Linked DNA regions of Homo sapiens: region 1 is linked to region 2. The links come from fine-mapping of genetic effects on gene expression. A gene starts in region 2. The other region holds a variant in brackets. All regions are shown on one strand. Distances are between the middles of the regions. Region 1 overlaps FLT3LG (fms related receptor tyrosine kinase 3 ligand). Region 2 holds the start of FCGRT (Fc gamma receptor and transporter).

The links.
Region 1: its variant is fine-mapped to the expression of FCGRT in whole blood (INTERVAL, PIP above 0.99).

What each region holds. Positions count from the first base shown.
Region 1 is chr19:49,475,605-49,480,967 of GRCh38, reverse strand. FLT3LG (fms related receptor tyrosine kinase 3 ligand) reads right to left here. Exons shown (of 9, transcript NM_001459.4): 3 at 5,167-5,277; 4 at 4,770-4,823; 5 at 4,402-4,545; 6 at 1,921-2,059; 7 at 492-670; 8 at 348-416. The coding sequence ends at 369. Among named protein-coding and RNA genes, the nearest start is that of FLT3LG, 4.1 kb to the right of the region's middle. RefSeq lists an enhancer at 4,797-4,976. The variant G/TG (reference allele first, on the strand shown) is at 2,212.
Region 2 is chr19:49,509,411-49,514,773 of GRCh38, reverse strand. It overlaps FCGRT (Fc gamma receptor and transporter), which reads right to left and starts at 2,113. Exons shown (of 7, transcript NM_001136019.3): 1 at 2,024-2,113; 2 at 1,301-1,387; 3 at 641-892; 4 at 288-563. The coding sequence starts at 1,373. RefSeq lists enhancers at 1-603, 2,531-3,093.

The DNA.
Region 1 (5,363 bases), 34 kb after region 2:
CTCCGCCTCCTGGGTTCAAGCAATTCTCCTTCCTCAGCCTCCTGAGTAGCTGGGATTACAGGCACACACCACTATGCCCAGTTAATTTTTGTATTTTTAGTAGAGACTGGGGTTTGCCATGTTGGCCAGGCTGGTCTTGAACTCCTGACCTCAAGTGATCCACCCGCCTCGGCCTCCCAAAGTGCTGGGATTACAGGCGTGAGCCACCGCGCCTGGCCCCAGAGGGGTCTTTCTGCACCTAGAGCTGCCCCTGCCCCTCCACTGCTCACCACCCTTCCATGGCCTCCTAGTGACCCTCCCAACCTGCAGACACAAAGTCCAGGCCCCATAGCCCAGGAAGGACTCACCAGGATGAGGCCTTGGCCAGGTCAGTGCTCCACAAGCAGCAGGTCCTGGGGACTGGGGACGGGGGGCACCTGTGGGCCCCAAAGTGTCAGCCACAAGTGGGCCACCCTCTCGGCCCCCTCACCCCCTCTTCCCAGCCTGCTCACCTGCTCCCCAGGGCGGGGTGTCCTCCGCCGCGTCCTCTGCCAGTGCAGGCACCAGGCAGCGGCCAGCAGCAGGAGGCCCACGGGCAGCAGCAGTAGGAGGAGCAGAGGGGGCTGCGGGGCTGTCGGGGCTGTGGCCTCCAGGGGCCGGGGACTCCATGGGGGTGGCAGGGTTGAGGAGTCTGGGGAGAAAGAGGAGGCTGGGTGACCAAGGAGAAGGGCTGGGGTAAGGAAGGAAAGAGAGGCCTGGCTGCCACTGGCTGTGTGACCTTGGATGGGCTGCTTGGCCTCTCTGTGCCTCAGTTTGCTCATCTGTAAAACTAGGATAATCATTGTACCTACCTCATCAGACTGTCACAAATTAAATGAGTGAATAGGCTGAGCGCGGTGGCTCACGCCTATAATCCCAGCACTTTGGGAGGCCAAGGTGGGTGGATCACTTGAGGTCAGGAGTTCAAGACCAGCCTGGCCAACATGGTGAAAACCCATCTCTACTAAAAACACAAAAACTAGCCAGGCATGGTATGCGCATCTGTAATCCCAGGTACTCGGAAGGCTGAGGCAGAAGATTCGCTTGAACCCTGGAGATGGAGGTTGCAGTGAGCCAAGATTGCGCCACTGCACTCCAGCCTGGGCGACAGAGCAAGACTCCGACTTAGAAAAAAAAAACAATAGGCTGGGCGCGGTGGCTCACATCTGTAATCCTAGCACTTTGGGAGGCCGAGGCGGGCAGATCACGAGGTCAGGAGATCGAGACCATCCTGGCTGACACGGTGAAACACCGTCTCTACTAAAAATACAAAAAAAAAAATTAGCCGCGTGAGGTGGCAGGCGCCTGTAGTCCCAGCTGCTGGGGAGGCTGAGGCAAGAGAATGGCGTGAACCCAGGAGGCAGAGCTTGCAGTGAGCCGAGATAGCACCCCTGCACTCCAGCCTGGGGGACAGAGCAAGACTCCATCTCAAAAAAAAAAAAAAAAAAAAAGGTAGGCTGGGCACTGTGGCTCACGCCTGTAATCCCAGCACTTTGGGAGGCCAAGGCAGGTGGATCACAAGGTCAGGAGATCGAGACCATCCTGGTTTAACTCGGTAAAACCCCGTCTCTACTAAAAATACAAAAAATTAGCCGGGTGTGGTGGCGGGCGCCTGTGGTCCCAGCTACTTGGGAGGCTGAGGCAGGAGAATGGCATGAACCCGAGAGGCGGAGCTTGCAGTGAGCCAAGATCACGCCACTGCACTCCAGCCTGGGCGACAGTGCGAGACTCCGTCTCAAAAAAAAAAAAAAAAAATTGGTAAACTGAGCTCCAGAAAGAGGAATAAGCTTGCCCTTGTCACAACCAATATGAGAAAGATGGGGTCTGGGATGCACTGTGCAGAGAGGAGGAGCGGCCGTGAGGACAGGAGGGGAAGGAGTGGGGGTGCCTGGAAGCCTTTACCGGGCTGACACTGCAGCTCCAGGCACCGGGAGAAGTTCTGGCGAGTGATCCAGGGCTTCAGCGCCACCAGCTGCTCGGAGGTCTCCTGCAGGAGGCGGGAGATGTTGGTCTGGACGAAGCGAAGACAGCTGGGGGGGGGCTGGGAGCAGGGGAGGGAGACGTCACCACCACGTCATCCCCCCACCGCCCCTCCGCAGGCCAAAGGCCCTTCCCTGCTGGCGATGCCCAGCAACAGGGCCCAGTGAGCTCTGGCTCTCAGAGTTTATTTATTTAATTAATTAATTTTTTTTT[G/TG]AGATAGAGTCTCACTCTGTTGCCCAGGCTGGAGTGGTGAAATGCAACCTCTGCCTCCCAGGTTCAAGTGATTCTCCTGCCTCAGCCTCCTCAGTGGTTGGGACTATAGGTGCCCACCACCATGCCCAGCTATTTTTTGTATTTGTAGTAGAGACGGGGTTTCTCCATGTTGGCCAGGCTGGTCTCGAACTCCTGACCTCAGGTGATCTGCCCACCTTGGCCTCCCAAAGTGCTGGGATTGTAGGCATGAGCCACCGTGCTTGGCCATATTTATTTATTTATTTATTTTTAAGACAGAGTCTCGCTCTGTTGCCCAGGCTGGAGTACAGTGGCGCAATCTCGGCTCACTGCAAGCTCCGCCTCCTGGTTTCACGCCATTCACCTGCCTCAGCCTCCCAGGTAGTTGGGACTACAGGCGCCTGCCACCACGCCCGGCTAATTGTTTGTATTTTTAGTAGAGATGGGGTTTCATTGTGTTAGCCAGGATGGTCTTGATCTCCTGACCTTGTGATCCGCCCGCCTCGGCCTCCCAAAGTGTGGGATTACAGGCGTGAGCCACCGTGCCCAGCCTATTTATTTATTTATTTATTTATTTATATTTTTTAGTAGAAACGGGGTTTCTCTATGTTGGCCAGGCTGGTCTCGAACTCCTGACCTCAGGTGACTCGCCCGCCTCGGCCTCCCAAAGTTACTTTATTATTTATTTATTTTTTGGGGACAGAGTCTTGCTCTGTCACCCTGGCTGGAGTACAGTGGCACGATCTCGGCTTACTGCAACTTCTACCTCCCGGGTTCAAGGAATTCTGCCTCAGCCTCCTGAGTAGCTGGGACTACAGGCGCGCGCCACCATGCCCAGCTAATTTTTGTATTTTTAGTAGAGACGGGGTTTCACCACATTGGCCAGGGTGGTCTCAAACTCCTGACCTCGTGATCTGCCCGCCTCGGGCTCCCAAAGTGCTGGGATTACAGGCGTGAGCCACTGTACCCAGGCTTTTATTTTATTTTTATTTTTTTGGAGATGGAGTCTTGCTCTGTCGCCCAGGCTGGAGGGCAGTGGTGTGATCTCGGCTCACTGCAACCTCTGCCTCCTGGGTTCAAGCAATTCTCCTGCCTCAGTCTCCCAAGTAGCTGGGACTACAGGTGCCCACCACCATGCCTGGCTAATTTTGTTTTTGTATTTTAGTAGAGATGGTTTTCATCACGTTGCCGAGGCTGGTCTCGAACTCCTGAGCTCAGGCAATCCACCCGCCTCAGCCTCCCAAAGTGCTGGGATTACAGTCGTGAGCCACCATACACGGCCTATTCTATGTTTTGAGACAGGGTCTTGCTCTGTCGCTCAAGCTGGAGTGCAGTGGCCCAATCATAGCTCATCGCAGCCTCGACCTCCAGGGCTCAAGTGATCCTCCCACCTCAGCCTTCTGAGTAGCTGGGACCACAGGTGGGCACCACCATGCCTGGCTAATTTATTTTTATTTTTGTGCAGAGATGAGGTTTCACTGTGTTACCCGGGCTGGTCTTGAACTCCTGGGCTCAAATAATCCTCCCACCTTGGCCTCCGAAAGTGCTGGGATTACAGGTGTGAGCCACTGCACCCAGCCCTCAGAGAGAGGTTTTTGTTTGTTTGTTTTGTTTTTGAGACAGTTTCACTCTGTCTCCCAGGCTGGAGTGCAGTGGCATGATCTCGGCTCACTGCAGCCTCTGGCTCCCGGGTTCAAGCGATTCCTGTGCCTCAGCCTCCTGAGCCACCATGCCCGGCTAATTTTTGTATTTTTAGTACAGCCGGGATTTCATCATGTTGGCCAGGCTGGTCTCAAACTCCTGACCTCAAGTGATCCGCCCACCTCAGCCTCCCAAAGTGCTAGGATTACAGGAGTGAGCCACCACGCCCGGCCTCCTCAGTTTAGAGACCCCTTCTCTCCCTGTTTTTTTTTGGGGGAAGAACCCCTCAGTGGCACCCTTCATCATGGCCTAGGAAACCGGGGCCCCAGAATGGGACCAGACTGCTCCCCATCACCGGTGCCTGGGGACGTGTTGTTCTGTAGGAACAGGGCTCTGCAGGGTGGCGCTTCTCGCTCTACCTTCGTTGGGTGGCTATGGTCCAAATCGCCAATAAGGCCTAGTGGAGCTTTACTTCTAATTCGTAGGAAGGCATCTCCCTCCCCTCACTTGTCCCCTAAGTTGAGGGCTGACCTGAAAGGCACATTTGGTGACAAAGTGTATCTCCGTGTTCACGCGCTCCAGCAAGCCTTGCATCTTGGACCCAGCGACAGTCTTGAGCCGCTCCATCCAGCGCTGTGCCAGGACCAGCCGCCAGAGGCCCCCGCAGAGCTCCTCCTAGAGGGGAGAACCCACGGGTCTGAGGGAGGAGCTGGGCACGGGGCTGCTGGGTCTGAGGGAGGAGGGGCTGGGCCGGGGCTCCTGGGTCTGAGGGAGGAGGGGCTGAGGACTCTGATTCCTGGGTTTGGGGAGGGGAGGGCCTGGTTATCCACTCGCCTCGGTGGAGCATCTTGAGTCTGTGGTCCCCACCTCCATCCCAGGTCCCTCCCAACATGACTTACGTCCTGCAGGTTGGAGGCCACGGTGACTGGGTAATCTTGAAGCAGGTAGTCAGACTGCGGGAGAAAACAGGATCAGGCCTGGCTGAAAACAGCGAGAAACAGAACTGTGGGGACCCAGAGGTGGCAGCAGAGATCCAGAGAGAGAGGGACAAGACCAAGAGAGGGGGAGCCCAGAAGAAGCCACAGAACCTTGCCCTTAAAAAGGGATGACACCCCTAAGCACAGTGGCTCACGCCTGTAATTCCAGCACTTTGGGAGGCCAAGGTGGGAGGATCGCTTGAGCCCAGGAGTTCAAGACCACCCTGGGAAACACAGGGAGAGAGACCCCATCTCTACTTAAAAAAAAAAGTGGGGGGAAGGGGGATCACATGAGGGGGTCCGGGGCAGCGCCGCTCACCAGCTCACGGATTTTGACAGCGAAGTCGGAGGAGATGGGGCTGTGTTGGAAGGAGCAGTCCTGGGTCCCACTGAGTCCCGAGCTCAGCAGCAGCAGCAGGAGGAGATAGGTCTGCAGGGGAGCGGGTGCTGGGGGAGCCCTCTGCTGTTCCACACACAGCCCCCTCCTCCGGGCTTCCCACCTGTACTGTTCTGTCT
Region 2 (5,363 bases):
TGTGGTGAGCCGAGATCGCGCCATTACACTCCAGCCTGGGCAACAAGAGCGAAACTCCGTCTCACAAAAAAAAAAAAAAAAAGAAGGCAAGGAAGGAAGCCAGGAGTTTGTCCTGGGGGGCGCTGGGGAGCCATGGGAGGGCTGAGTGTAGAAGGACCCCTGAGGAATGGGGGGGCAGAGCGTGGGCTGCAGTGGGAGGCTGATGGAGGGTCCTGGCAGGGGAACTGAGGCAGGTGGGCATGACGGGAGAGAGGACAGAACAGCCTGCGGCTGCAGATCCGGCTCACCCTTCCACTCCAGGTTTCCGCGGCCCCTCTCCAGGTGCTCCCGCAGGCGGTGCGGGCAGGAGAATAGCAGGAAGGTGAGCTCCTTGTTGGCCGCCTTGTCCTGCTGCTGCCACCGCTGACTGATAGCCAGGGCCTCGGGCCAGTCCCCACCCCAGGTGCCCTGCTTGAGGTCGAAATTCATGAACTCCTCGCCGTTCAGGGCGAACTTGGCGGTGGGCACCGAGGTGTTGTCAGGGCCCAGTTCACAGCCCAGCAGGCCCTGCAGAGTGTAGGGACCTGGGGCGCCCAAACACAGGTAAGCGGGGCCCCGGAGCATGGACCCGGCCCCTTGCCCCTCCAGACCGGAATCTCACCTTTTCCCCCCAAAGCTTTGAAAGCTTCCAGAAAGAGCTTCTCCTTGATCCTCAGATCTGTGGTCTCTTTCTCCCAATACCAGGACACCTGGTTTTCCCAGACCCAAGCTCCACAGGGCTCCGCCTCGCCCCGCAGGCTATTGTAGCTCAGGTACTGCTGCGGGCCCAGCCAGCCGGACACCCAGAAGGCAGGAGTCCCCGGGGCAGGCGAGGACACCGCGGTAAGGTGGTACAGGAGGGAGAGGTGGCTTTCTGCAGACAGAAACAGAGCTGAAGGGAGCACACGGGCGGGGAACTAGACTGCAGTGGGACAGATACCCAGGGAGGGAGAAGAATCTATTATGGAGGGAGGGGGACAGATTCAGAGAGAGGGGACAGAAACCCGGGGGGGGGGGGACAGAGACCCAGAGAGAGAGAGACAAGAGACCCAGAAAGAGAGGGGGACAGAGACCCAGAGAGAGAGAGGGAAACAGACACAAGAGGCGACAGGTGGTTCCCAGCCTCAGGCCCAGCAGGAGACGTTGAGAAAGTTAATTGAGCGGAGAAGGCAGCGCCAGGGGCTCGCGGGGAACTCGGGTCCCGCTGGCTTCGCCCCTGCCTGCCTGGGGCCGCCTCCCGCCGCCCGCCTGCAGCAGGGCCCTGGCCCGGAGCGGCCCTCACCTGCGCCCAGGCTCCCAGGAAGGAGAAAGAGCAGGAGCCCCAGCGCCCAGGGCTGAGGCCGCGGGACCCCCATGCTGAGAGGACGACCTGGGGCGGGAGGGGGCACGTGACTCCTCCCGACCCCCGGCCCGCCCCTTCCTCCCGGGACACCGCGGGCACGGCCGGGACCAGGACGCCGAGGAGGGGCTCTGCGGGCTCGGTCCAGACTGACAACAATGCCCTCCTCGTACCTGAAGAACTTTCACCCCTGAACTGGATCTCAGTTGGTTAATTAATTACAGACACTTGATAGGCTGAGAGTCCCGGCCCCGAGCTCCGCCACGCCCCTTCCGCCCCCCTCAGGCCCCAGCCCCTCCTCCCTCAGACCCCGGAGTCCAGGCCCCCAACCGCTCTTCCCTCGGACCCAGGAGTCCGGGCCCCCAACCGCTCTACCCTCGGACCCAGGAGTCCGGGCCCCCAACCGCTCTACCCTCGGACCCAGGAGTCCGGGCCCCCAACCCCTCCTCCCTCGGACCCAGGAGTCCAGGCCCCCCCGGCCCCTCCTCCCTCCTCCCTCAGACCCAGCGTCCAGACCCCCAGTCCCTCCTCTCTCAGACCCAGGAATCCAGGCCCCCACCCCTCCTCCCTCAGACCCAGTGTCGAGACCCCCAGCCACTCCTCCCTCAGACCCAGGGTTCCAGGCCCCCAGCCCCTCCTCCCTCAGTCGGGCCCTGGTCGGCTCACGTTCCCTTCAGCCTCGCTCCCTTCCTGCCTGCGGCCCTGGCCGGCTCCTGGCTCCCGTGACTGGAGACCCCAGTTCCTCTCTCACATCCTGTGGGAGGCTGCTGCTCCCTGACTCCAAGAACATCCAGCCCCACCCCCCAGTTGCAGGGCACACCCCAGGCCCTAGGCCCAGCCTGTTTGTTTCTCAAAACGCTTGTGGTTCTTCTTTTTCCTTCTCTGTGGTTCCCGTTTTTTACTTTGAGGGTGTCTGCCGCTCAGGGAATTCTTGACAAAACTGGGAAAGGAACTCGATGCCTCCGGAGTCCACAACTTGGAGGTCTCTGGATCCTCCTCCTACCCCTCTGTATCCCCGTGGCCTTCCCTAGCGCTCGCTGTTAATCAAAATCTTCTGGAAGCCTCCTTAGTTCCTCCTTCAAGCCCTTCCCCCGGCATCCCCTTAAAAAATTCCTGCAGGTGCTCTTTAATATCCTTCTGCGGGCCGGGCGCAGTGACTCACGCCTGTAATCCCAGCACTTTGGGAGGCCAAGGCGGGCGGATCACGAGGTCAGGAGTTCGAGACCAGCCTGGCCAATATGGTGACACCCCCGTCTCTACTAATAATACAAAAATTAGCTGAGCGTGGTGGTGGGCCTGTGGTCCCAGCTACTCGGGAGGCTGAGACAGGAGAATTGCTTGAACCCGGGAGGTGGAGGTCGCAGTGAGCCGAGATTGCACCACTGCACTCCAGACTGGCAACAGAGCGAGACTCCGTCTCAAAAAAAAAAAAAAACCACATCCTTCTGCTAGGACTTCAGTGACCACATGGTCCCCATACAATGCTGCCTCACTCGAAGGCCCCTCCAGGCACCAGCCCCCGCCCACACTCCTGCTACAAAGCTTCCCATACACTTATTTCATTGTGGTAAAATATTCAAAATATTTACCCTTACTGTCATTTAACACATTTACAGTGCTGTGCAACTGTCACCTCTATCCGAGTTCCAGAGCTTTTTTATCACCCCAAACAGAAGGTCTGTCCCCGTTAAACAGCCGCTGCTCCCAGACCCCTGGCAACCATTCATCTGCTTTCTGTCTTGATAGATTTGCCTATTCTGCACATTTCAAAGAAATTGAATCATATAATATGAAGTCTTTCCTTCCTTCCTTCCTTGCCTCCTTCCTTCCTTCCTTCCTTGCCTCCTTCCTTCCTTGCCTCCTTCCTTCCTTCCTTCCTTCCTTCCTTCCTTCCTTCCTTCCTTCCTTCCTTTCCTTTTTTTTGACAGGGTCTGGCTCTGTCACTCAAGCTAGAATGCCGTGGAGCGATCATGGCTCACTGCAGCCTCAACCTCCCAAGCTCAAGCACTCCACCTGCCTTAGCCTCTCAAGGAGCTGGAATTACACACACTTGCCACCAGGCCCAGCTAATTTTTGTATTTTTGCAGAGATAGTGTCTTGCTATGTTTCCCAGGCTGGTCTCAAACTGCTGGGCTCAAGACAGCCTCCCACCTTGGCCTCCCAAAGCACTGGGATGACAGGTGCAAGACACCCATGCCTGGCCTGTTTTCAGCTCTATTGAGCATACATCTGGGAGTGGAACTGCTGGTCAGGTAGTTCAGGTTCTCTAGAGAAACAGAATCCACAGAATGTGTATATGCATACACAGAAAGAGATTCATTTGAGGAATTGGCTTCCAGGATTAGTGGACGTTCAGCTGGTTCAGAGTCTGATGCGGGGGCCAGGTGTGGTGGTGCATGCCTGTCATCCCAGCACTTTGGGAGGCCAAGTTGGGAGGATCGCTTGAGTCCAGGAGTTTGAGACCAACCTGGCCAACATAGGGAGACCCTGTCTCTATTTTTAAAAAAAATTTCAAAAATGTTGGACGCGGTGGCTCAAGCCTGTAATCCCAGCACTTTGGGAGGCCAAGGCGGGCAGATCACGAGGTCATGGTGAAACCCCATCCCTACTAAAAATATAAAAAAATTAGCGAGGCATGGTGGCAGGCGCCTGTAGTCCCAGTTACTCAGGAGGCTGAGGCAAGAGAATGGCGTGAACCCGGGAGGCGGAGCTTGCAGTGAGCTGAGATCCCGCCACTGCCCTCCAGCCTGGGCGACAGAGCAAGACTCCATCTCAAAAAAAAGAAAGAAAGAAAGAAAGAAACCCCAAAGTCTAATGGGGGAGCCAGCAGGTGGGAGACACAATTGCCTAGCAGGACTCCCTCTCCCTCTGGGCAGACTTTTCTTCTTTTTTTTTTTTTTGAGACGCAGTCTCGCTCTGCCATCAGGCTGGAGCGCAATGGCCCGATCTTGGCTCACTGCAACCTCCGCCTCCCGGGTTCAAGCGATTCTCCTGCCTCAGCCTCCCAAGTAGCTGGGATTACAGGCACCTGCCACCACACCCGGTTAATTTTTGTATTTTTAGTAGAGACGGGGATTTCACCATGTTGGCCAGGATGGCCTCGATCTCTTGACCTCGTGATCTGCCCGCCTCAGCCTTCCAAAGTGCTGGGATTATAGGCGTGAGCCACCGCACCCAGCCGAGACTTTTCTTCTATTCAGGGTTTCAAGTGGTTGGATGAGCCTCCCTCAATTCAGGAAGGGGAACCTCCTTTACTCAAAGCCTAACAATCTAAACATAAATCTCAGCTGGGCACAGTGGCTCATGCCTGTAATCCCAGCACTTTGGTAGGCCAAGGCAGGAGGATCGCTTGAGTTCAAGGACCAGCCTGAGTAACAGAGAGAGCTTATCTCTACAAAAAATTAAAATATTAGCCGGGTGTGGTGGTGCGCACTTGTGGTCCCAGCTACTCAAGAGGCTGAAGCTGGGGGACCCCTTGAGCCCAAGAGTTGGAGGCTGCAGTGAGCCGTGATGGCGCCACTGCACTCCAGCCTGGGCAGCAGCAAGACCCTGTCTCACAAATATATATGTAAATCTCATCCTAAAACACCCTCATAGAGACATCCAGAATAATGTTGACCGAATATCTCTTCACTCACTGTGGCTCAGCCAAATTGACACATAAAATTAACCAGGTAAATCTCTGTTCTCCTTGTCCAGAATGTCTTCATTTTTCTCATTCTGCCTGTGTCCTACTGTGTCCTACCTGATTCTCCCTGTGTCCTACTAGAAGGGAGATCCAGTGACACCCATCCCAAGGTCCACTCCTAAGAGACAGAAAGAACCTGCTTTAACTTCTTCTTTTCTTCTTTTCTTTTCTTTTTTTTATTTTTTGAGACAGAGTCTTGCTCTGTCGCCCAGGCTGGAGGGCAGTGGTGCAGTCTCGGCTCACTGCAAGCTGCGCCTCCCAGGTTCACGCCATTCTCCTGCCTCAGCCTCCCGAGTAACTGGGACTACGTGAGCCTGC